Linked DNA regions of Homo sapiens: all the other regions are linked to region 3. Evidence: fine-mapped expression QTL. A gene starts in region 3. Each other region holds a variant in brackets. All regions are shown on one strand. Distances are between the middles of the regions.

Evidence for each region. PIP is the estimated chance that this variant, and not a neighbour inherited with it, causes the effect. A credible set is the group of variants that fine-mapping cannot tell apart.
Region 1: its variant is the best candidate, but not a certain one, in a credible set for the expression of OLFM2 in unexposed skin (GTEx, PIP 0.51).
Region 2: its variant is the best candidate, but not a certain one, in a credible set for the expression of OLFM2 in whole blood (TOPMed, PIP 0.71).

Annotation. Positions count from the first base shown.
Region 1 is chr19:9,888,467-9,896,443 of GRCh38, reverse strand. All of the region lies in intron 1 of OLFM2 (olfactomedin 2), which reads left to right. It overlaps LOC124904636 (a long non-coding RNA gene), which reads right to left and starts at 2,954. Exons shown (of 2, transcript XR_007067135.1): 1 at 2,836-2,954. The variant C/A (reference allele first, on the strand shown) is at 4,109.
Region 2 is chr19:9,859,072-9,867,048 of GRCh38, reverse strand. It overlaps OLFM2 (olfactomedin 2), which reads left to right. Exons shown (of 6, transcript NM_058164.4): 2 at 6,255-6,404. Among named protein-coding and RNA genes, the nearest start is that of PIN1, 28 kb to the right of the region's middle. The variant C/T (reference allele first, on the strand shown) is at 3,936.
Region 3 is chr19:9,931,839-9,939,815 of GRCh38, reverse strand. OLFM2 (olfactomedin 2) reads left to right here and starts at 3,301. Exons shown (of 6, transcript NM_058164.4): 1 at 3,301-3,512. The coding sequence starts at 3,450. RefSeq lists enhancers at 2,282-2,784, 3,451-4,045.

The sequences.
Region 1 (7,977 bases), 43 kb after region 3:
CCTGGGTAACAGAGCAAGACTCTGTCTCTAAAAAAAATTAAAATAGGCTGGGCGCTGTGGCTCACGCCTGTAATCCCAGCACTTTGGGAGGCTGAGGCGGGCGGATCACAAGGTGAGGAGATTGAGACCATCCTGGCTAACACAGTGAAACCCTGTCTCTACTAAAAATACAAAAATTAGTCGGGCGTGGTGGCGGGCGCCTGTAGTCCCAGCTACTCGGGAGGCTGAGGCAGGAGAATGGCATGAACCCGGGACGCGGAGCTTGCAGTGAGCCAAGATCGCGCCACTGCACTCCATCCAGCCTGGGCAACAGAGCAAGACTCCGTCTCAAAAAAAAAAAAAAAAAAAAAAATTAAAATAAAGTAAAGAAGGCCTGGGAACGAGGAGACCAGATGAAAGCAGAGAAGTAAGTAAAGTGCAGAGCCACAGGCTCTTGTGGCGACATTAAGGAGTTTTATCTCTATCCTAAGAATAAAAGGAATCCACCAATATGGTTTTGGCCGGGAGGATAATATGATCACACGTGCGTTGTAAAGTTTCCCAGCTTTCAGAGGCCAAGGCGGGTGAATCACTTGAGGTCAGGAGTTTGAGACCAGCCTGGCCAACATGGTGAAACCCTGTCTCTACTAAAAATACAAAAATTAGCCAGGTGTGGTGGCGTGGGCCTGTAATCCCAGCTACTCAGTAGGCTGGGGCAGGAGAATCACTTGAACCCTGGAGGTGGAGGTTGCAGTGAGCTGAGATGGCACCACTGCACTCCAGCCTGGACGACAGAGCGAGACTCGGTCTAAAAATATAAATAAATAATAAAAATAAATAAAGTTTCCCAGAAGCTCCCATGTGTAGAGTTACTAGCAAGAAAAAAGGTAGATTGAGGTAGACCGAATAGACTTTATTTTTATTTAAATGTTTTGTCATATTTTACATTTATTTATTTATTTATTTATTTGAGACAGGGTCTCACTCTGTCACCCAGGCTGGAGTGTAGTGGTGTGATCACGGCTCACTGAAGCCTTGACTTCTCAGGCTCAAGTGATCCCCCACCTCAGCTTCCCGAGTAGCTGGGACTACAGGCGTGTGCCACCACACCCCGCTAATTAAAAAAAAATTTTTTTTTTGGTACAGTTAGGGTCCTAGTATGTTGCCCAGGCTGGTCTCAAACTCCTAGGATCAAGCAGTCCTCCCACCTCGGCCTCCCAAAGTGCTGGGATAACAGGCATAAGCCACTGCACACAGCCTAGACTTGCTGAATTGTGAAAGTGGCTTGGACCATTGCATGGTGATAGAGATGAAGAATGATGCATGAATTCTAAAGCTATCTAGGAGTTAACATCAGTAGGATTTGGTGAGGGAGTAAAATGAGGGTGAGGATAATGCCCGGGTGTCTGACCCACTGGCCCGGGGGTGGGGAGGATGGAGATGGTGACATAAGGAATGTTGGATAAGAACTAGGTTAGGGAGGGAAGGCTGTGCACTTCAGTTTGAGCATGTTGGGCTTGAGATGCCTTAGAGATATCTGGGGCAGGGGGAGCGGTCAAGGAGTCAGATGATGAATATATGCATTGGAGCTCTGAGGACATATATACAGGCAGGTGTTGATGGACGCTTTGGTAAGGGTCAGACTCCTTAGAGAAAGATAAAGAGAAAATGCAAGGCTAAGTCTAGAGCTGTGGTTCTCAACCGAGGAGTGGGAAGTTATTTTATTTATGTATTTTTTTAATTTTTTATTCTTTTGAGACGGAGTTTTGCTCTTGTTGCCCAGGCTGGAGTGCAATGGTGCAATCTCGGCTCACTGCAACCTCTGCCTCCTGGGTTCAAGCCATTCTCGTGGCTCAGCCTCCCGAGTAGCTGGGATTACAAGCAGGCACCACCACACCTGGCTAATTTTGTATTTTTAGTAGAGACGGGGTTTCTCCGTGTTGGTCAGGGTGGTCTCGAACTCCTGACTTCAGGTGATCTGCCCGCCTCAGCCTCCCAAAGTGCTGGGATTACAGGCGTGAGCCACTGCACCTGGCTTTATTTTATTTATTTATTATTATTATTATTATTATTATTATTATTATTATTGAGAGAGAGTCTCACTCTGTTGCCCAGGCTGGAGTGCAGTGACACCATCCCGGTTTCACTGCAGCCGTGACTTACCTGGGCTCAGGTGACAGCAGGTTTTGACCCTTCCTGTTTAGCACATGTTACCATGATCTCTGCTCACTGCAACCTCCCCTTCCCGGGTTCAAGTGGTTCTCCTGCCTCAGCCTCCTGAGTAGCTGGGATTACAGGCGTGCGCCACCACGGCCGGCTAATTTTTGTATTTTTAGTAGATATGGGGTTTCACCATGTTGGCCAGGCTGGTCTCGAACTCCTGGCCTCAAGTGATCCATCCGCCTTGGCCTCCCAAAGTTGCTGGGATTACAGGAGTGAGCCACCATGCCCGACCAAGAAAACCCTCTTGAATGCTCTCTCCTGAACTCCTGACCTGAGGTTTGGTGTCTGAGGCTGGGGAGAGCTCAGATAGAGGGATGTTCAACTCTAGTATCTATGAGGTGAGACTCAGGATGGTTCTTGTAACGTCTTGAAACCTCTTGAAGATTTATGCTGTGTGTAATAGCTCATCAAGAAACCCTGGTAATAATCCTTGAAATAGACCTGCGAACTCTGCTTTAATGAATTTTACATGATGGCGTTGGAGAAATGAAATCCCCTTACCCTCATTAATCCTGAGACACAGCAATCATTTGCAGTAGACGTTCACCCAAGAGGCCCCAAACACTTTAAGAGAAGTGCTCCACACGTGAGAAGGTGCCCAGGAAGGGGAAATTTCTGCCATGAAATCCTCACCTGATTGTGAACGTTCTACTAGGGCAGGGTGTACCCAGGTACTGAGATAGACCAGGCTCAGCTCAGGTTCCAAGACGGGGGGTTCACTCAAGTCCTGGAACAGAACACAGATACATCCCCAAGGTGTTAAGATGCTCCATGATTGGCCGGGTGCGGTGGCTCACGCCTGTAATCCCAGCACTTTGGGAGGTGGAGGCGGGTGGATCACCTGAGGTTGGGAGTTCGAGACCACCCTGGCTAACATGGTGAAACCCAGTCTCTACTAAAAATACAAAAATTAGCTGGGCATGGTGGTAGGCGCCTGTAATCCCAGCTACTTGGGAGGCTGAGGCGGGAGAATCACTTGAACCTGGGAGGTGGAGGCTGCAGTGAGCTGAAATTGTGCCATTGCACTCCAGCCTGGGCAACAGAGCGAGACTCTGTCTCAAAAAAAAAAAGAAAAAGAAAAAAAATAAAAGATGCCTTGTGGTTTGACTCTATGACAGACTAGAGTCAAGCCCAAGCCTTGGACAGACAAAGGCTTAACTGGGAGAGACCAAAGAGAAACCTGGTTCTAAGAGATGAAGAGGGCCAGGACCAAATCCGAGTCCTGGGTAGATCAGGGCTACGCTGTGGACTTGAGATAGACAAGGCCAAACCCAAGTACTGAGATAGACCAGAGTTTAACTTGAATCCTGAGATGGACCAGGGCTGAACCCACATCCTGAGACAGATCAGACCAGAACCTTGTGAGGAGAGAACCAGAAAATGGGCTTATCTTAGAGAAGTTGTGGGAGAACAGGTTTGCTCTCCCTACTTGTTGAGCCGCGTCACCCAAACTGTCGAGTGCCTCTGGGATGAATGGCCATTGCAGATGACTTGGAATGTCCCAGGACTCATGAGGGGATGAGAATTTTATTTTTATTTGATTTGATTTGACACAGAGTCTTGCTCTGTCACCCAGGCTGGAGTGCAGTGGCGTCATCTGCCTCCTGGGCTCAAGTGATTCTCCCACCTCAGCCTCCTGAGTAGCTGGAACTACAGGCACCCGCCACCAAGCCTAGCTAATTTTCGTATTTTTAGTAGAGACAGGGTTTTGCCATGTTGGCCAGGCTGGTCTCGAACTCCTGGCCTCAAGTGATCCACCCACCTTGGCCTCCCAAAGTGCTGGGATTACAGGCGTGAGGCACCGCACACAGCCAGAATTTTATTTCCCAATGCCAGGTCATCCTAGGATCCAAGGTTGAGCCAGGTCAGGCCCATGAGCCAACAGCACTAGGGATGCCCAGGGTGG[C/A]TGTCCCTCCCTGTGGTGTTGGCTGTATGTACTCTGATACAGACTTGAGTGATGCCCCCACTCCATATAGGCTGTCACACCCAGGGTATCACATATCCACACAGCAGCAGATACACACATGCACACACACAGTCACACCAACCCATGCACGTGCCTCAGATACACAGCAACACGTGGCACAGACATGCACATTGACACCCCAAACCCTGGCACACACACGTACAGACCACATCACAGTCTTACAAACACAGCCAACTGGCACACTCAGACATAGCCCTCCTCACTATGCCAGTTTCACATCTGCAATAGTGCCCGACTCCAGGGTCATGGTGTTCTCGGAGAACAGTGTCCCTGGAGTTTTCTCACTTATCTATCATCTGACACCATCCTGTTTTATACATTCATATGCATAGTTTTATACACTTGCTGATGCTCACACACATAAACCTATATATAGCTACCTGCTCATGTGTGTTCTTGATCATGTAGACACAGACGTGCCACACCTCAGTCTCACACACTCACTGGCTCTGTGCCAGTCAGCATAGGCTAGGTTTTGCTGTATAACAAAACAGCCCCCAAGTCTCAGAGGGTTAGTACAACCAAATGAGCTTTTGCTCATGATACATGAGGGTTGGCAGGGTCTCTGCCTAGTCTGGCCACTCAGGGACCCCAGTGATGGAGGCTTCATACCAACATGCACTTTTTTTTTTTTTTTTGAGATGGAGTCTTGCTCTGTTGCCAGGCTGGAGTGCAGTGGTGCCATCTCAGCTCACCTCTGCCTCCCGGTTCAAGCAATTCTCCTGCCTCAGCCTCCCAAGTAGCTGGGACTACAGGCACGTGCCAGCACACCTGGCTAATTTTTATATTTTTAGTAGAGACAGGATTTCACCATGTTGGCCAGGCTGGTCTCGAACTCCTGACCTCAAGTGATTCACCTACCTCGGCCTCCCAAAGTGCTGGGATTACAGATGTGAGCCACTGTGCCTGGCCCCAGCATGCACTTTTTTTTTTTTTTTTTCCGAGATGGAGTCTCGCTCTGTTGCCCAGGCTGTAGTGCAGTGGCACGATCTCGGCTCACTGCAACCTCTGCCTCCAGGTTCAAGTGATTCTCCTGCCTCAGCCTCCTAAGTAGCTGGGATTACAGGCACCCACCACCAGGCCTGGCTAATTTTTGTATTTTTAGTAGAGACTGGGTTTCACCATGTTGACCAGGCTGGTCTTGAACTCCTGACCTCAGGTGATCTGCGTGCCTCAGCCTACCAAAGTGCTGGGATTACAAGTGTGAGCCACTGCACCCAGCCCAACATGCCCTTCTGCGGTTGCTGAGGGAAGACTGTGGCACTGCACACTGGCTTGCCTCTTTTTTTCTTCGTTGTTTCAGAGACAGGGTTTTGCTCTGTGCCCAGGCTGGAGTGCAGTGGTGTGATCACAGCTCACTGCAGCCTCCAACTCCTGGGCTTAAACAATCCTCCTGCCTCAGCCTCCTGAGTAGCTGGGAATATAAGTGTGCACCTCCATGCCCGATAAATTTTTAAAATATTTTGTAGAATAGGGGTCTTGCTATGTTGCCCAGGCTGTTCTCAAACTCCTGGCCTCAAGCAGTTCTCCTGCCTTGGCCTCCCAAAGTGCTGGGATTACAGGTGTGAGCCACCACACCTGGTCCACACCGGCTCTTAAAGTATTCACCTGGAAGTCACTGCCGTTTAAAAGGCATTGGCTAAAGGAAGTCACGTGGCCACACTGGGGAAGTCCTACAGCCCCATCATGTGCCTAAGAGAAAAGAACTAGAAAATGTGTCAACAGTTCTGTTGACTACTGCAGTCTCTTACATGTTCCAACAGTTACTCACTCCTGTAGACACGTCCACATGCACGCACTTTATTCCTTCTCACGGGCACCCATTCTCATGACCTGTTTCCTTCCTTGAGGCAGGGCAGGAGGCCACAGTGCCCGCCCCCTCCCCCCAGAGTCTTCCCTTAGCTTCAGATACATCAGGGGGATCTCCCTGTCTCTGTTGAGCTGGGGGTCCCAGGGGTAATGAGTTTCTGAGCTGCAGCTAGAGCTGGAGCTGAGAAAACAGTGCAGACACCTTCTCTGCCCCCGGAGTGGGTGGTATTTTTCCACAGACACTGGGGAAGAAGAATAATAGGTGCTGGTAGATGTCTCCACCAGCCCAGCGCCTTCCCCGTCTTGCCAGCTGCAGCTTGGAAGAGGGGAGCCCAGAGGGAAGAGAAGGCAAAACCAGAGAGACCCCTGTCCTCCCGACCCGTGTGAGCTCCCAGCGCCACTGGGGACCCTTCGTTGTCCCCTCTCCTCCCGGCTCCTCCTTCTGACTACTCAAATATTCCAAGGCAGGAAACTCATGAATATTTATAGGGGCCTGGCAGTGAGGCAGATATAAAAAAAAAAAAATTGGAATTTATGAACCAGGATTCGTCTATAAATAACAGGCCTGTGGCTGGTGGGGTTCTTCCCTCACCCACAACATTGCTTCAACTGCAGCTCCAGCCCCATCCAAAGCTCACAGAGCCTCCCCTTCACACACATACACACAGCTTCACTGTGGATGCACAATTTCCCATCCGCCAGTGCATTGGCGCACACACACGCATTCATACCCAGCCGAACACACAGACACGTGTTCACACCTGCCTGGGTCTGGCCCACTGCCTCCCTTCCACTCACAGACACCCCGATGCAAAGTGAGCCTGAATGCATCCTCCTCTGTCCACATTCGGGCTGATGCAGCCACTCACACTGCATCTGCACAAAACACACAGTTGGGCTGGGTGTGGTGGCTTATGTCTGTAATCCCAATACTTTGAGAGGCTGAGGCAGGAGGATTGCTTGAGCCCAGGAGTTTGAGACCAGCCTGGGCAACATAGTGAGACCCTATCTCTACAAAAGAAGACAAACATTTACTAGGCATGGTGGCATGCACCTGTAGTCCCAGCTACTTGGGAGGCTGAGGTGGGAGGATTGCTTGAGCCTGGGAGATTGACACTGTGTGTGCTGTGATCGCGCCACTGCACTCCAGCCTGGGCAACAGAGCAAGAGCCTATCTCAAAAACAAAAAACAAAATACAAAAAACACACAGTTGCACACATACACACCATGGAGAGACACATGGCCACAGCTCACTCCCTAACCCATGACCCAAGCACACCCCCTCCCCTCTCCAGGCCTCAGTTTCCTCACCCACATAAGGGGCACACCGAGAGTTCCTACCTCATATGGTTGTTGTGCAGAATTGTTTTTTTTTTTTTGAGACGGAGTCTCGCTCTGTCACCCAGGCTAGAGTGCAGTGGCGCAATCTTGGCTCACTGCAACCTCTGCCTCCCGGCTTCAAGCCATTCTCCTGCCTCAGCCTCCCAAGTAGCTGGGACTACAGGCACCCGCCACCATGCCCGGCTAATTTTTTACATTTTTAGTAGAGACGGGGTTTCACCGTGTTAGCCAGGATGGTCTCGATCTCCTGACCTTGTGATCCGCCCGCCTCGGCCTCCCAAAGTGCTGGGATTACAGGCGTGAGCCACCGTGCCCGGCAGAATTTTAAAAATAACAAATGGATACCAGGTGCCTGTTGTGTGCAAGATGATCTATTTTAAGTGCTGGCAACACAGCAGTGAACAAAAACAGGTAAAAACTCCTGCCTGACGTTCTGGAGGGGAAGAAAGATAATTTGCAAAATTAATGCATAAATGATGTGGCGGAAGCAGATGGAGTAGGGAAGTGGATGGGGGGTGCTGGGGCACTTGTAGTTCTGGCCAGGGGAGATCAGGGAAGGTTTGTTTTTTGTTTTTTTTTTTTGAGGTAAGGTCTCACTGTCGCCCAGACTGGAGTGTAGTCGCATGATCTCAGCTCA
Region 2 (7,977 bases), 73 kb after region 3:
AGTAGGAGATGATGATCCCTGGCCCGACAGCAAGAACAGCTTTCCCTGCCTGTGTCCTACTCAGTTAATCCTGGACCTGTTTTAGAGGCTGGTGTTTAATTAGGGCAGCCTCAGCAAAAGTGTTTGTAAGATTTCAGCCAGAAAAGACATTTGAGGAACAGATACTTGAGTGCATAGCTTCACTCCCTTAAAGCCCATTAGCAGGAATATTAAACCCTGAACCAAGAGCTCAGCAAAGAGAGAGTGGGTTGGCAGGGCCGTCGTGATAGCTCACGCCTATAATTCCAGCACTTTGGGAGGCCAAGGCGGGTGGATCACTTTAGCCCAGGAGTTCAAGATCGGCCTAGGAAATGTAGTGAGATCCCCGTCTCTACCAAAAAAAATAGCCAGTCGTGATGGTGCATGCCTGTAGTCCCAGCTGCTCGGGAGGCTGAGGTGGGAGGATTGCTTGAGTCAGGGAAGTTGAGGCTGCAGTGAGCCTAGATCATGCCACTGCACTCCAGCCTAGGCAACAGAGCAAGACCCTGTCTCAAAAAAAAAAAAAAAAAAAAGTGGGTTGGCTTCTTTAGTACATCTGCCACATCCGAGGTGAGACAGGCTGCTAGACCACAGACTTCTATGCTGGAGAACGCCTGTGTTCTTGCACCTGCTGTTGTAAGCATTTCCCCTAGAGTAGGACACTCTCTGTTCCTCTCTAGTCTTCTGACTGCCAAGAACTCTTGACTTTGTTTCCAAGCTAGACCCAGTCTGGGAGAGCTAGCACATGGTACATTCCAGAACATTCCAGCGGTTCCTAGGGACATGCATTAACTGCATATCTGAACTTAAACCCAATGGGCAAAACTCAGGACCTCTGCCTGCTGCGATCTGGCAGCCAAAACCCAGGCATTTAATTACACTGCTGCAGAGAACACTCCGGTGAGATGCGTCCAACGCAGACAATTATTTTAGGAAAACCATGGAGGCCTTCTCTCTGCACCACTTAAATCTTGCTTCTCTTTTACAATTCAATATTTCCTCTGTCGAGAGAAAATGGCTTATTTGCTTCAACGGACACGCTAGGCAATGTAGGAAGATGTTAATTACGTTGAACCGGCGGCTTTGTCTCTGCACAAAAGATATTCCTTGGGGGTTTCTATCCAAATTGCTTGGGGACTAGAGCCAGGGGAGGAGGGGCAGGGATGCTTGGGCTCCTGTTTGATGTTTTTCTTTGTTTTTTTTTTTTTTTTTTAAGAATGAGATTTATCAAGAAGGGAGGGCCGGGCACGGTGGCTCATGCCTGTAATCCCAGCATTTTGGGAGGCCAAGGCGGGTGGATCATTTGAGGTCAGGAGTTCAAGACCAGCCTGGCCAACATGGCGAAACCCTGTCTCTACTAAAAATACAAAAATTAGCCAGGCGTGGTGGTGCATGCCTGTAATCCCAGCTACTTGGGAGGCTGAGGCAGGAGAATTGCTTGAACCTGGGAGGCAGAGGCTGCAGTGAGCCGAGATCCCGCCATTGCACTCCAGCCTGGGCGACAGAGCAAGACTCCCTCTCAAAAAAAAAAAAAAAAAAAAAAAAGAAAAAACAGAGAGGTAACAGTGACTCATGCCTTGTAATCCCAGTGCTTTGGGAGGCTGAGGCAGGAGGATCGCTTGAGCCCAGGAGTTTGAGACCATACTGGACAATATAGCAAGACTCCCATCTCTACAAAAAAATTTAAAAATTAGTAGGTGCGATGGTGAGACTAAAGGCCTTTAGTCTCAGCTACTCGGGAGGCTGAAGTGGGAGGAATCACTATTTAAGCCCAGGAGGTTGAGGCTGCCAAAAGCCCTGATAGTACCACTGCACACCAGCCTGGGTGACCAAGTGAGACTCCATCTCCAAAAAAAAAAAAAGAGGAGAAGAAGAAGAAGGGAGGTGGGAGAGTAGTTCTGGATCCTCCCAGAACCAAAGGGGCAGGCTTTCTTGGGGTATTCCTCTTGTACTGGGCCATCCTTGTTGTCTTAGGTCAGGCTCTTTCAGGGAGGATTTAAGTGCAGGTATCCACCTAAGATACCCCAGGAAGAACCAGTGGGGGAGCAGTGAAGTGAGAGAGGAGGTGAAGGAAACCCGTGCCGGGAGACTTAATGAGTACGCCAGGCGCAGTGGCTCACACCTGTAATACCAGCACTTTGAGAGGCCGAGGCAGGTGGATCGCTTGAGCCCAGGAGTTCAAGACCAGCCTGGGCAGCAAAGCAAGACTATCTCTACAAAAGGAAAAAAAAAAAAAAAAAAAAGCTGGGTGTGTTGGTACCTGCCTGTAGGCCCAGCTACTCAGGAGGCAGATGTGGGAGGGGATGGCTTAAACCCAGGAGTTCGAGGCTGCAGTAAGCTAGGATTGCACCACTGCACTCCAGTGGTGGGTGACAGCAAGACCCAGACCTGAGCGACAGCAAGACCCCATCTTAAAAAAATAAATAAATGTGCCAGGCGCAATGGCTCTCGCCTGCAATCCCAGCACTTCGGGAGGCCAAGGTGGACGGATCACTTGAGGCCAGGAGTTCGAGACCAGCCTGACCAACATAGTGAAACCCTATCTCTACTAAAAATACAAAAATTAGCCAGGCATGGAGGTGGGTGATTGTAATCCTAGCTACTCGGGAGGCTGAGGCATGAAAATCGCTTGAACCCAGGAGGTGGAGGTTGCAGTGAGCCAAGATCGCACCACTGCCCTCCAGCCTGGGAGACACAGCGAGAGTCTGTCTCAAAAATGAAAAATAATAAAATAAACGAATAAATAAAAGAGAAGTAATGAGCAGGTTGCTGCTGTGGACAACTGAGGTGTAAATCTAATGGGTTGCCCTGGAAGATTTCATGAACATACACCTTCGAGTTCTTTCCCACTGGAGAGGCAAGAGGGGTGGTATTAATCACGAATGCCTGTAGGTCATCTCTGAGGATTGCTGGGTGTATTTTCTGCTGGCCCCATGCAAGGGCAGGGTGGGATATGACCACCAGAGAAAGCTCTTGGCTGTGGCCAATCCTGGGCACACCTGCAGTGAATGTTAGCTCCACCCAGCTCCTACCTGAGTACAAGGAAGGCGGAGAAAGTGAGTTACTGTGCTCCGCTGCCAGGGCTGAGGATGTGCAACTTACAAAGAGGGGGTTCCCCCCATTTAGGAAGGGTGTACAAAGGCTCGAAGAATGACTGACTGTAATAGTTTCAGCTGGCGTTTATGAATGGTTTGTTTTCCTTATAGATTAGTGGGGGAGTCAAGCTCATCTGTATAATTTGTACAATTATATCATTTGCTCATATTCCAATAAGCCTTAAAAAAAAAAAGACTCGATTGAGTGGGAGAGAAAAAGGTGGGCTAATAGTTGGAGTCCCCGGGATCGCTCATAATTCACAGCTTGGTTTATCTGTGCTGCAGCTCACGGCACCGATTCTGCTGGGAGATCTAGTAATGGCTGTGCAAATGATCAATGATTGTGGTGCTTTGTTTCTCTGTAAAACACTGGGGTTTTTTTAATCAGAATTTCTTCCATGCCTGTCAGAATGCATCCTGGAATAGGACCAGAATCTTCCATTTACCGCCTCTATGGCCACCACCCATCATCACCTGTCTGGATCTGTGCAGTCACCCCTGCCCTGGCCTCCCTCCCTCGTTCCCTAGAGCAGCCAGAGGTCACTGTGAACACCCAAGTAAGGTCACGTCTCGCCTCTGCACAGAACCCTCCATGGCTCCCACCTTCCTCAGGGCAGAACCCAGAGCCCTCACTGCTTCCCACAAGGCCTTGCCCCATCACCTCCCTTCTCTCATCTGCCTCCACTTACCCCTTACTCAATCTGCTCCAGCCACATGGGCCTCCTCCTTGTTTCACAAACACACCAGGCATGGTCCTGCCTCAGCCTTTCTACTTGCTGTTCTCTCTGCCTGGAACCCCTTCCCCAGACATCCAAATGGCTC[C/T]TCCCTCACTTCCTTCAGGTCTTGAACAAAGACTTCAGGTTTTGAACAAACGACGCCTACGTGTGCAAGCCCAAGCCAGTCACCCCACAACCCTCACGTCCCCCCACATCCTTTTTTTTTTTTTTGAGACAGAGTTTCACTCTTTTGCCCAGGCTGGAGTAAAGTGGTGTGATCTCGGCTCACTGCAACCTCGGCTCGCTGCCCCCACCCCGCCAGGTTCAAGCGATTCTCCTGCCTCAGGCTCCCAAGTAGCTGGGATTATAGGCGCACATCACCATGCCCGGCTAATTTTTGTATTTTTAGTAGAGACGGGGTTTTACCATGTTGGCTAAGCTGGTCTGGAACTCCTGACCTCAGGTGATCCACCTGCCTCCACTTCCCAAAGTGCTAGGATTACAGGTGTGAGCCACCGCGTCTGGCCTGTTTTTTTTAAGAGATGGGGTCTCACTCTGTCACCCAGGCTGGAGTGCAGTGGCACAGCCATAGCTCATTGCAGCCTCAACTTCCTGTACCCAAGCAATCCTCCTGCCTCAGCCTTGTGAGTAGCTGGGACCACAGGTGCATGCCACTACATCCAGCTAATTTTTTTTTTTTTTTAATTTTTAGTATAGATGAGGTCTTGTTATGTTGCCCAGGGTGGCCTTAAACTCCTGACCTTCAGTGATCCGCCCCCTTCAGCCTCTTGAAATTCTGGGATTACAGGCGTGAGCCACCATTCCTGGGTCCCTCCAGACATTGATCAGGATTTGTAATGATAGAAATGTCCCCTGCCTTCTCCTTTTCTTCTGTCTCACTCGTCCCTCAAGTTCATCTCAAGAGCCCATTCTCTTGGATACCTCCTCAGAGACCCTCAGCCTGAGGGAAGACCCCCTGTTACTCCCTGCACTACTTCTTCAAAGCACTCACTGCAGCATGTGGTTCTAGAAGTATCACTGGCATTAAGTGGTTGATGTCCGTCTCTCCTAGTAGCTCCATGGACAACCACCAGATGTTTTCTTCATTCCTTCTCTTCCTTGATCCTATCCCAGACCCTATGCCTGGGACAGAAGAGACTCTCATGGATATCTTCTTTTTTTTTTTTTTTTTTTTTCTTTGAGACGGAGTCTTGCTCTGTCGCCCAGGCTGGAGCGCAGTGGCGCAGTCTCAGCTCACTGCAACCTCCGCCTCCCAAGTTCAAGCCATTCTCCTGCCTCAGCCTCCCATGTAGCTGAGATTACAGGTGCCCGCCACCATACTTGGCTAATTTTTGTATTTTTAGTAGAGATGGGGCTTTGCCATGTTGGCCAGGCTGTTCTCAAAACTCCTGACCTCAGGTGATCCACCTGCCTCAGGGGTGTCTTCTAATCAGTTTGGAAGTTTATGATTTGTGTCTAGAGTTCCCTGGTACTTATTTGCATTTCTAAGCCTCTGATAAGTCCTGCAGTAACAAAACTTGTTTCACCCAGTGACACACATTTATTTGACCACAGAGCATCCTTTTCCCAGCACACCTGGTAAGATTACCAGTGTTGGAAGGAGTATGGCTTGGGAAACAAAGCCATAATTGGTCACTGGATTATCTGAGCATTTTGTCTGCCATCACTTTGCCTGGGTGGCTCCAGGTGAGGTGGGGGCACAGCAGGGTTGCACTTAACATTTGGTGGCCCTGATGGCCGGGCACGGTGGCTCACGCCTGTAATGCCAGCACTTTGGGAGGCTGAGACGGGTGGATCACCTGAGGTGAGATCCTTTTTTTTTTGTGAGACAGGGTCTCACTCTGTTACCCAGGCTGGAGTGGAGGCCAGGTGTTGGAGACAGGCGGAGGTTGCAGTGAGCCCAGATCGCGCCACTGCTCTCCAGCCTGGGTGACAGGGCAAGACTGTGTCTCAAAAACAAACAACAACAAAAAACAAACCAAAAAAAAAAAAAAACATTAAGTGGCCCTGAGATAGCTCCAGAGCCGATATGTCACTGTGGGCTGGGGAAGCAGAGAGGAGGTCCAGGTTTGGGGGTTATTTGAGTGGATCTCTGTTCTAATGGCAGTCACAGAGACAGTGTTGTGTGCGTGCAAATCTGTGTGAGAGAATGAATTCTGGTCTTGGAGAAGATTTGAGTCCTCCAATTCCTTGCCGTGTTCCTTAAGCCCTCCGCACCTCAGTCTTGCCATCCGTGAAATGAGGCTCCTTAAGGAGGGCCTGAGATCACACACAACAGGCACTGGCATATGCCCGGAGCCCAGCAAAGGGCATCTGTGGTTTCCTTGGGCCCCCTTCCTGTCCCAGTGAGGGCGAGGCGAGACCCTCACTGGGATTCCGGTCTCTGACCCCCACCTCTTTGCAGACTCTCTTCCAGAACCCAGAAGAGGGCTGGCAGCTGTACACCTCAGCCCAGGCCCCTGACGGGAAATGCATCTGCACGGCCGTGATCCCAGCGCAGAGTACCTGCTCTCGAGATGGCAGGAGTCGGGAGCTGCGGCAACTGATGGAGAAGGTGAGAACCTTCCAGGTACCCTGGGGGCAGCTGGGAAAATCTCCCAGTTCTCACCCCGCCCTCCAGCCCCATCCAGGTCAGCCAGTGGCCATATCCAGCTATGCAAATTATTCAGAGCTGGCTGATAATCCAGCTCCTCTCCAGGCAGGTCCTTTTTTTTTTTTTTTCCTTTTAACACAGGGTCTCACTCTGTTACCCAGGCTGGAATGCAGTGACATGATCAGCTCACTGCAGCCTCAAACTCCTAGGTTCAAGCAATCCCCACTCCTCAGCCTCTGAGTAGCTGGGACTACAGACATGCACCACCATGCCCTAATTTTTATATTTTTTGTGGAGACGGGGTCTCCCTATGTTGCCCAGGCTGGTCTCAATCTCCTGGGCTCAAGTGATCCTCCTGCCTCAGCCTCCCAAAGTGTTGGGATTACAGGTGTGAGCCACCATGCCCAGATGGATACTTTATCCAATATCTGTTCAATGTATTTTTTTTTTTTTTCTCCTTGAGACAGTCTCACTCTGTCGCCCAGGCTGGAGTGCAGGTGCAGTGGCGCGATCTCAGCTCACCGCAACCTCCACCTCCCAGGTTCAAGCAATTCTCCTGCCTCAGCCTCCCGAGTAGCTGGGATTACAGGCGTGTGCCACCACGCCCAGCTAATTTTTTTATTTTTAGCAGAGATGGGGTTTCACCATATTAGTCATGCTGGTCTTGAACTCCTGACTGCAGGTGATTTGCCTGTCTTGGCCTCCCAAAGTGCGGGGATTACAGGCGTGAGCCACTGCGCCCTGCCTGTTCAATGCTTTTTTGGGAGAGAAGCCAAGCACTTACTGGGATTGGGGTGGGGGGAAGGAAGGAAGACTGGAGGGGCAGCATCTGAGTCTCCTGTGTGTGAGCTCTGGTCCACCAGGCATGTCCCACCCAGCTTTGCAGTTCACCAGACTCACCTACTAAGAAGGAGTTCTGTGCCCCTTGGGGAGGGTCTAACCCTCCACCTCAAGAGGCTCCTATAAAAGTTTCCTTCTACCTCTGATCATGGTCAAGAGAAAATAGTCCCCTGGGCCGGGCGTGGTAGCTCACGCCTGTAATCCCAGCACTTTGGGAGGCTGAGGCATGTGTATCACTTGAGGTCAGGAGTTTGAGATCAGCCTCTACCAAAAATACAAAAATTAGCCGGGCGTGGTGGTGTGTGCCTGTAGTCCCACCTACTCGGGAGGCTGAGGCAGGAGAACTGCTTGAACCCGGGAGGTGGAGGTTGCAGTGAGCTGAGATGGCACCACTGCACTCCAGCCTGGGCAAGACAGAGCAAGACTCCATCTCAAATAAATAAATAAATAAATAAATAAAACTTACAAATTGTTGATTTCTGGAATTTCCCACTTAATATTTTTGGACTGTGGTTGGCCTCAGGTAGCTGAAACGTGAAACTGTGGAGAAGGGAAGAGTATGTAAAAATGTTTTGTGGCGTTCAGGGTGGGTATTAGGCTGCTGAGTTTCTGGGAGTTTCCAAGTGTCATGTGAATAATTGTACAGGAAAGTCTGTATTTCAACAAGCATCCAGTGGTAACTCTGACTGAGTTT
Region 3 (7,977 bases):
GGACTGAGACCACAGAGGAGGCACAGCAGCCATGGCTAGAGACACTCAAAGTGGAGGGGGGGAAATTCTCTGGCTTCTCCTTTCTTGGCACCCTCCAATCTGCCTGTAGACCTCCCATTGGCTGAGCCTAACCAGATGCAAAGAAGCCTGGGAAATGTAGTGTGTAGAGAACCTGAGAAAGATAATTTGCAGGAGCCATTGCCCTGATACAGAGGGGAGCAGGGGGAAAGTGGGGAATAGATCTAAGTGCATATCGACCAAATTCCAACCATATAACACAGGCTGTAGCTTAGTTGTAACTGTGATCGTCTTAGTGACCAGAGCCCAAGGAGGACACTGTTCATGGTCCTGAAATGCAGCATTCATGAGTCAAGAGTGCTGACTCTTGACCGTGAGACCCACTCTTGGTCAAGAGCTTGTGGGTCCTACCAACCAATGTCCTCCTTTTATGCAATGCCAACTGCAGGCTTGGCCTGAAGGGCCCACAAAGGACTGTCTCCCATTTGGGAAAAGGAGATAGAAGAATAGGATGGGTGCGGTGGCTCATGCCTGTAATCCCAGCACTTTGGGAGGCTGAGGCAGGTGGATCACCTGAGGTCAAGAGTTCATGACCAGCCTGGCCAATATGGTGAAACCCCATCTCTACTAAAAATATGAAAAATTAGACAGGCCTGGTGGCAGGCACCTGCAATCCCAGCTACTTGGAAGGCCGAGGCGGGAGAATTCCTTGAACCCGGAAGGCAGAGGTTGTAAGCCGAGATCAAGCCACTGCACTCCAGCCTGGGTGTGACAGTGTGAGACTCCATCTCAAAAAAAAAAAAAAAAAAAAGAGATAGAAGAATAAACAGGATGTCTTCGCAGGCTCAGACTCTATTTTGTGTCCACATCCCATGATGAGTGTCCTCAACCCAGTGCATGGTTGGTTATTGCAAGGCGTGCTGGGGAGTGAGTGCTAGCTAGGTGCTCTCTTTGCTTAGAGTCACAGATGTCTCCCAATAACTGCAAAAAACAGGTCTTCTAAGAGGGGGAAAGCTTTTTCCCTAAGGTCACATGGCCAAGAAGTGGCAGCACCAGGGTTGAACCCAGATCTGTGGGTCACCAAGCTCTTTCTCATTGACCTGACAAAACCATCATCGACATGTTTTATCCCCAGTAGGGTTGAGACAGGAATGATCCAGGGTGGTCACAGGCAGCCGTTTCACATGACTAGAGGCTATGGGCTGATAAGATCCTGAAAACCAGGGTGTGGACCAAGCTGGCTAAGACCTACTGGACCCAACATGGCGTTACATTCTACCTAGGTTTCACCTAGGATCTCATTATGTACTCATTAAAATACTAAAATTACCCACCCACCAGCGCCCTTGACAATTCCAGGGACACCCAAATTTGGTGTAAAAGTGGGTGGCACCACAGTCCACCTTTTTCCAGTTTTCATGAATATTCCATCCCTTGGTTAAAGAGATACACAGTGGCCTGTTGTGGTGGCTCACGCCTGTAATCTCAGCACTTTGGGAGGCCAAGGCGGGTGGATCACGAGGTCAGGAGTTTGAGACCAGGCTGGCCAATATGGTGAAACCCTGTCTCTACTAAAAACACAAAAAATTAGCCGGCTGTGATGGCGCACACCTGTAATCCCAGCTACTCAGGAGGCTGAGGCAGGAGAATTGCTTGAACCTGGGAGGCAGAGGTTGCAGTGAGCCGAGATCACACCACTGCACTCCAGCCTGGGTGACAGAGCGAGACTTTGTCTCAAAAAAAAAAAAAAAAAAAAAAAAAAAGAGACACATAAAGGTAGCAGTCCCAAACCACCTTGCCCATCTCTCTCTCTTAAGTACGCCCACTCCCTTTTCTCAAGTGTGGACTTTTCCCTTAACAAAAAAATCTCCGAACTTTTCATGATTTTCTGATTCCTCCTTGAATTCATTCTTGCGATGGTGTTAAGAGCCTGGACACCAGCTGGGGTCGAGGCCCCACCAGCGTCTGGGGAGACCCCTCCTAGCCCAACAGTATCAGGGTCACAAAAATGCCAGGCTTCCTGGCCTCGCATATTTTATGCCCGATTTCTTTCCAATCTGACTTATTTGCCCGCCCCCCTCCTCCACCTCTGCCTACATATATCCGAATCCCTAGAGGGGCTGTGGGGAGGAAAGACGACTAGGGACACTTTTTTTTTTTTTTTTTTTTTGAGACAAGGTTTGCTCCTGTTGCCCAGGCTGGAGTGCAATGGCACGATCTCTGCTCACTGCAACCTCTGCCTCCCGGGTTCAAGCGATTCTCCTGTCTCAGCCTCCCGAGTAGCTGGGATTCCAGGCATGCACCACCACGCCCGGCTAATTTTTGTATGTTTTAGTAGAGGTGGGGTTTTGCCATGTTGGCCAGGCTGGTCTTGAACTCCTGACCTCAGATGATCCACCCTCCTCAGCCTCCCAAATTGCTGGAATTACAGGCGTGAGCCACCGCGCCCGGCCTAGGGAGACTTTTGGAGGAGTGAGAGGCAGAGAAAGGCTGGAAAGCCTCCCGAAAGTGAGGCTAGACAAGGACGCCCTTCATATGCAAATGGCTTCGCGTGGAGGCGGTGTTAATATTTTGATTCTCTCGGGGGATGTGGTCTTTCATCTTGGGCTATTGAAACAGGGAGCGAAGAGAAACTCTTCCAGGTGTGGCGGAGGCGGGGAGGCTTCCAGCGGGAGGACTGGTGGGGAAATGGGGCGCCCGGGGAGAGTGAAAACGAGACGCCCCTTTTTGAGGCCAAGCCCACCCACGTGGCCATTTCCATTGGCCTCTTGCCTGATTCTCGGTCTCCTGTCCCCCCAACCTCAATTTTTTCCTCTTATTCCCCGTCTCCATCTATGCCTCACCCCTCTTGTCCTGGCATTGACCCCTCCTCCAACTTCCAATTTCAGATTCTGCCTCAGTTTCCCTGTTGACTCTTGAGTTTTTAGGGAGGGGGCGTTCATCATTTCCCCTCTCTGCTACCAGGCCTTCCTCCTATTCCTCTCCCCCAACCATTCGTCCCCGTCCCACCTGCAACGTGGGAAATGCCCCCGGAGGGTGAAATTTACAAACACGTGACGGGCACCCCTCCCCCACCTCCGCGACCCGCTCCCGGAATGGCCTGGGGGTTGGGGGGCGCTGCCAAGTCCTGTCCTCAGGTCCCCTCGCCGGCGCTGGCTCCCCCACTTCCCCGCCCCCACCCCCCCACCCGACCCTGCTCGAGCTGCTCCCGAAGAGGAGCTGGGGGCGGGGCGGGGGGCGGAGCCCGCAACAAAGACTCGGAGCGAGCGAGGGGGCGGGGGTGGGGCGGAATCCCGGCCGCCGGCGAGGCGGGGGAGGCGGCGGCGCAGGGTCGCCCCGGCCGGGCGGGCGGGGTCGCGCCTGGTGGCGGTCCCCGCGCCGAGGCGCCGCTAGGGCGGGCGGGGGTCGGGACGCCGGGCTAGGGGCGCGTCATGTGGCCGCTCACGGTCCCGCCGCCGCTGCTGCTGCTGCTGTGCTCAGGCCTGGCCGGACAGGTAGGGGCCCGGCGGGCAGGTGCGGGCGCGGGTGGCTCCGGGAGAGGAGGGGGGCGCGGAGGGTTCCCGGAGAAACGGGGTTGGGAGGCTCCACAAGCCCCCCCAGCTGCAGGGCGGCGAGGGGCGGGGGTCGCAGCGGGGGAGGGGCCGGGACGTGCACTCTCTGGCTTGGGAGAGGACGAGGGGGGCTTCAAATCCAGCCTCAAGCTGGGCTGGTTTGGGGGGTGGCGTCTTTGGGGTTCTCAACCCCTCCATGGCCCCGAGCCCCCACCCCGCCATCTCGCTGGAGCTGAATGGGGTTGGGAGGGAAACTTCAGGGGGCATTGGAGGGGGGCGGTTGCTTACCCTTGACTTCCTCTTCGGGGCCGAGATGCCCAGTTTCTGAAGCCCTCCACTCCTCGCCTGCAGCCCCCAGTGTGGGGCAGGGGACGGGACTCACGTGAGAGTGACTGACGGGGACGCGTGTGAAATGCTGTGGGGGTGCAGGGTAAACGTGTGTGTCTTTGTGTCGTGGTTGGGTGTGACCGGGGGGAGTTTGTGTGTGTGGCGGTTGGGGGGCTTGTCCAACTAGTGCCCGAGTTGGGGTGTGATCAGTACGTGAGACAGAGTCTGTGTGTGACCGTGTCCTCATTACTGGCTCCAGATGACTGGGTGTTGTACAATACGTGTGTGGCCAGGTGTGTGGCCGTGTGAGAGCCTTGGAGTGAGCGTGTGCTATTCTGTACCTTTGGGTAAATCACTCTAAAAGGGTGTGTGTGTGTGCAAGCGCTGTGTGTGCAAACGTGTCCATCCATGCACGTGTGTGTGTGTATCTTGGTGCCTTGCTCACAACCGCACACGCCATTCATACCCTTACAGAAGCGGGTCTCCCTCCCCATGGCACCTTTCTCTTGGGCAGGCTCAGGGAGGCTTGCAAAATGTGGGGCGTCCACGCTCTCTTTTGCTATTGGAAAGCCCCTCTCCTCCTCCATCTTGGGAGTGAGAGCACCCCCAAGTTCTCAGATCTGTAGGAGTTCACAGGGAAGCTGGGATCAAAAATAATAAAATAGTCATTATGATAACAGTGATCATTCATTACGTGCTAATTTGAGAGGTGCTGTTTCAATCACACAGCACAGACTAAGGCATTTAACCCCCTCTGCCTCCTCCCTACTAGAGCATGGTATTGTTACCTCATTTTATGGATGGGGAAACTGAGGCGCAGAAAAGTTAAATCACTTGCTCAAGCTCGAGAGTGACAGAGGTGGGACTGAACCGAGGCAGTCCGGCTCCTGAGCCCACACGATTACCCTCTTGTTAAATAATCCGCTCCATGGGTGTGGACAGCGTCCGTGAAGACATTGCTAGGTGGGCTTTTAGGTAGATAGGCAGGGGAGAAACAATTTGGGCACCTTCCCCTTATCAAGAAAAGAATCAGACCCTTGTGCTCACCCCGAGGGGGGTGTTGGGAGGAATGGAGGTTAGACTCCAGATAGAAGGATTTCCAGGCCACGAGGAGAGATTGTGGGGTCCCCTCCCTCGCTCCTCCATTTCCCCACGCATCTCAGCACCCACGCGCTGGGTGGGATAGGGAGTGTGCCCAGCCCCAGGCATGAGGACACACACAATAGGTACTCAATGGATGTGTGAGCCTGAGAGAAGCCAAGAGACACACCTGGGAGACGAGAGACCAAAAGAGGCACACACTTGAGAAACCAGTGGAAAAAAAATGAGCCAGGAATCAAGTTGAATTATCCTTGACCTAGCAGAGGAGACAGAGAACCACCCCCTGTGGCTTCTCCTCCACTCCCTGCTAGGGGGGCACTAGATTTTCTGGCTTCTCACCAAGATTGGCTAGGATGCCAGAGTTTGCTGCCAGAATTGCAATTGGAGGGTGACTCCTACAGCCCCCAGGGCTGGGAGGGAGTTGCTTTGGGGGCGGGACTAACGAGGTCAGTGGAGGCGGGGCTAAAGGACAACGGGGGCGTGGCCAAATGAGGTAATCCGTTAGGGCGGGGCTGGTGGAATCCTGCCGCGGGCTGCAGTGCCTCCAGGCGGCCACCGCGGGAACTACATGGTTGTGAAACAGTCTCGGCGCCCCATACACCCCCTTGGCGTTGGCCCACCAAGCCTGGCACCCCAGGGAAGGGAGGGGTCTGCAGAGAGGATGCTCTACCCACTCTTCGCTCCCTCCATCACTTTCCAAAGACTTCTTCCCTGTCCCTGATGGGCCCAGGGGTCCTTCCTAGAAATCATTGGTTAATCCATTCAATGAACAGATATGATTATGCACTGGGGATACAGCCACCAACTGAGTCATCAAATCCCTGCTCTCCTGGAGTTGACCTAGCAGAGGAGACAGAAAAGAGCCGAATAACCATGTAATACGGTGTCGGCAACTAAATATACATATAATACAATGCAAGTAGCATGAAGAATAACAGATAAAGTATAGAAGATTAGACTGGAGCCGGGTGCTGTGGCTCACGCCTGTAATCCCAGCATTTTGGGAAGTTGAGGCAAGTGGATCGCCTGAGGTCAGGAGTTCGAGACCAGCCTGGCCAACATAGTGAAACCCTGTCTCTACTAAAAATACAAAAAATTAGCTGGGTGTGGTGGCAGGCGCCTGTAATCCCAGCTACTAGGGAGGCTGAGGCAGGAGAATTGCTTGAACCTGGGAGGCAGAGGTTGCGGTGAGCTGCGATCGCCATTGCACTCCAGCCTGGACAACAAGAGTGAAACTCTGTCTCAAAAAAAAAAAAAAAAAAAAAAGATTAGAGTGATAGCAGTCGGGCATGGAGGCTCACGCCTGTAATCCCAGCACTTTGGGAGGCCAGGGTGAGTGGATCACTTGAGGTCAGGAGTTTGAGACCAGCCCGGCCAACATGGTGAAACCCCGTCTCTACTAAAAATGCAAAAAATTAGCCAGGTGTGGTGTTGCACACCTGTAGTCCCAGCTATTCAGGAGGCTGAGGCAGGCGAATTGCTTGAACCTGGGAGGCAGAGGTTCCAGTGAGCCAAGGTCATGCCACTGCACTCCAGCCTAGGCAACAGAACAAGACTGTCTCAAAGCAAAAAAACAGAAAAAGATTACAAGGTGGGGGCTATTTGAGCCAGTGTGGTCAGGGAAGGTGTCTCTAAGGAAGTAGTGTTTCAGGTGACATCTGAAGGAGGTGAGAGAGGGAGCCTTGTGGGTGTCTGGGGGAAGAGCATTGAAGGTGGGAGGAACAGAAGGTGCAAAGGCCCTGGGGTAAGAACAAGCTTGGTGAGTTTCAGAAGCAGTGTGGACGCTGGTGTGGCTGGAGAGGTCGCGGGGAGATGAGGCCGGGGAAGCCAGACCACTTAGGAACTTGTAAGCTGTGGGCAGAAGTTTGGATTTGACCCAGAGAGCAGGAGAACAGGAAAGCAGGGCCTGTCAGAGGCATTGTCCATTCATCCAGGATCTATCCAAGATGTTCTGGGTTCTGGCCTGGGAGTGACTACCAGAGAGCTTGACAGTTCTGAGCCCCACTATTTTCCTTGTGGAAAAGATGCCTTCCTGATCCCTGCGAAGGCCTCCCTAAGATCTAGCTACATCGTTGGCACTATCTGGGTTTGGGACCAACTCTTTCCTGGGGCTTTCAGAGGATGGGGAGAAGGAATAATTCAGTTTAGATCACGTGCCTCAGGGACTTCACACTTGCTGTTCCCTCTGCCTGTGACACTGTTCCCCCTGGTAGCTATTTATCTCTGATTTCTGCTTAAATGTCACCTCCTCCAAGAGGCTCACCCTGAACAGCTAAGTGAAATAGCCCCCTGCTGCCACTCTCTGAGTGCTTACTCCGTGTTCTTTTTCTTTCTCTCTCTTTCTTTCTTTTTTTTTTTTTTTTTGAGACTGAGTCTCACTCTGTTGCCTGGGCTGGAGTGCAGTGGCGCAATCTCGGCTCACTGCAAGCTTTGCCTCACCGGTTCAAGTGATTCTCGTGCCTCAGCCTCCCGAGTAGCTGGGACTACAGGCACGTGCCACCTGATGCCCAGCTAGTTTTTGTTGTATTTTTAGTAGAGACAGGGTTTCACCATGTTGGCCAGGCTGGTCTTGAACTCCTGACCTCAGGTGATCTGCCGCCCAAAGTGCTGGGATTATAGGCATGAGCCACCACGCCCGGCCATATTTTTCTTTATAGCCCTCGTTTCCACATTTCTATGATTCTTCTATTCATTCATTCTCTGTTTCCCCACTAGAGCGGCAGTTTATCAGGGTTCAGCTAGCTTTGTTGTTTCTCCAGTGTCTAGAGCAGAGCCTGACACACAGTAGGTGCTCAAGAAATATCTGCTGAATGGATGAATGGATGGATGGATGGACCCCCTCACACACACAGAGTGTCTTTCTTTCTCAAACCACAGGATTCTTTTATCAAGAGAGTGTCAGGGGAACACTCGCTCCTGGATGGAAGGCACCAAGAAAATCCATTCTTCAGGCCAGGTGTGATGGCTGATACCTATGATC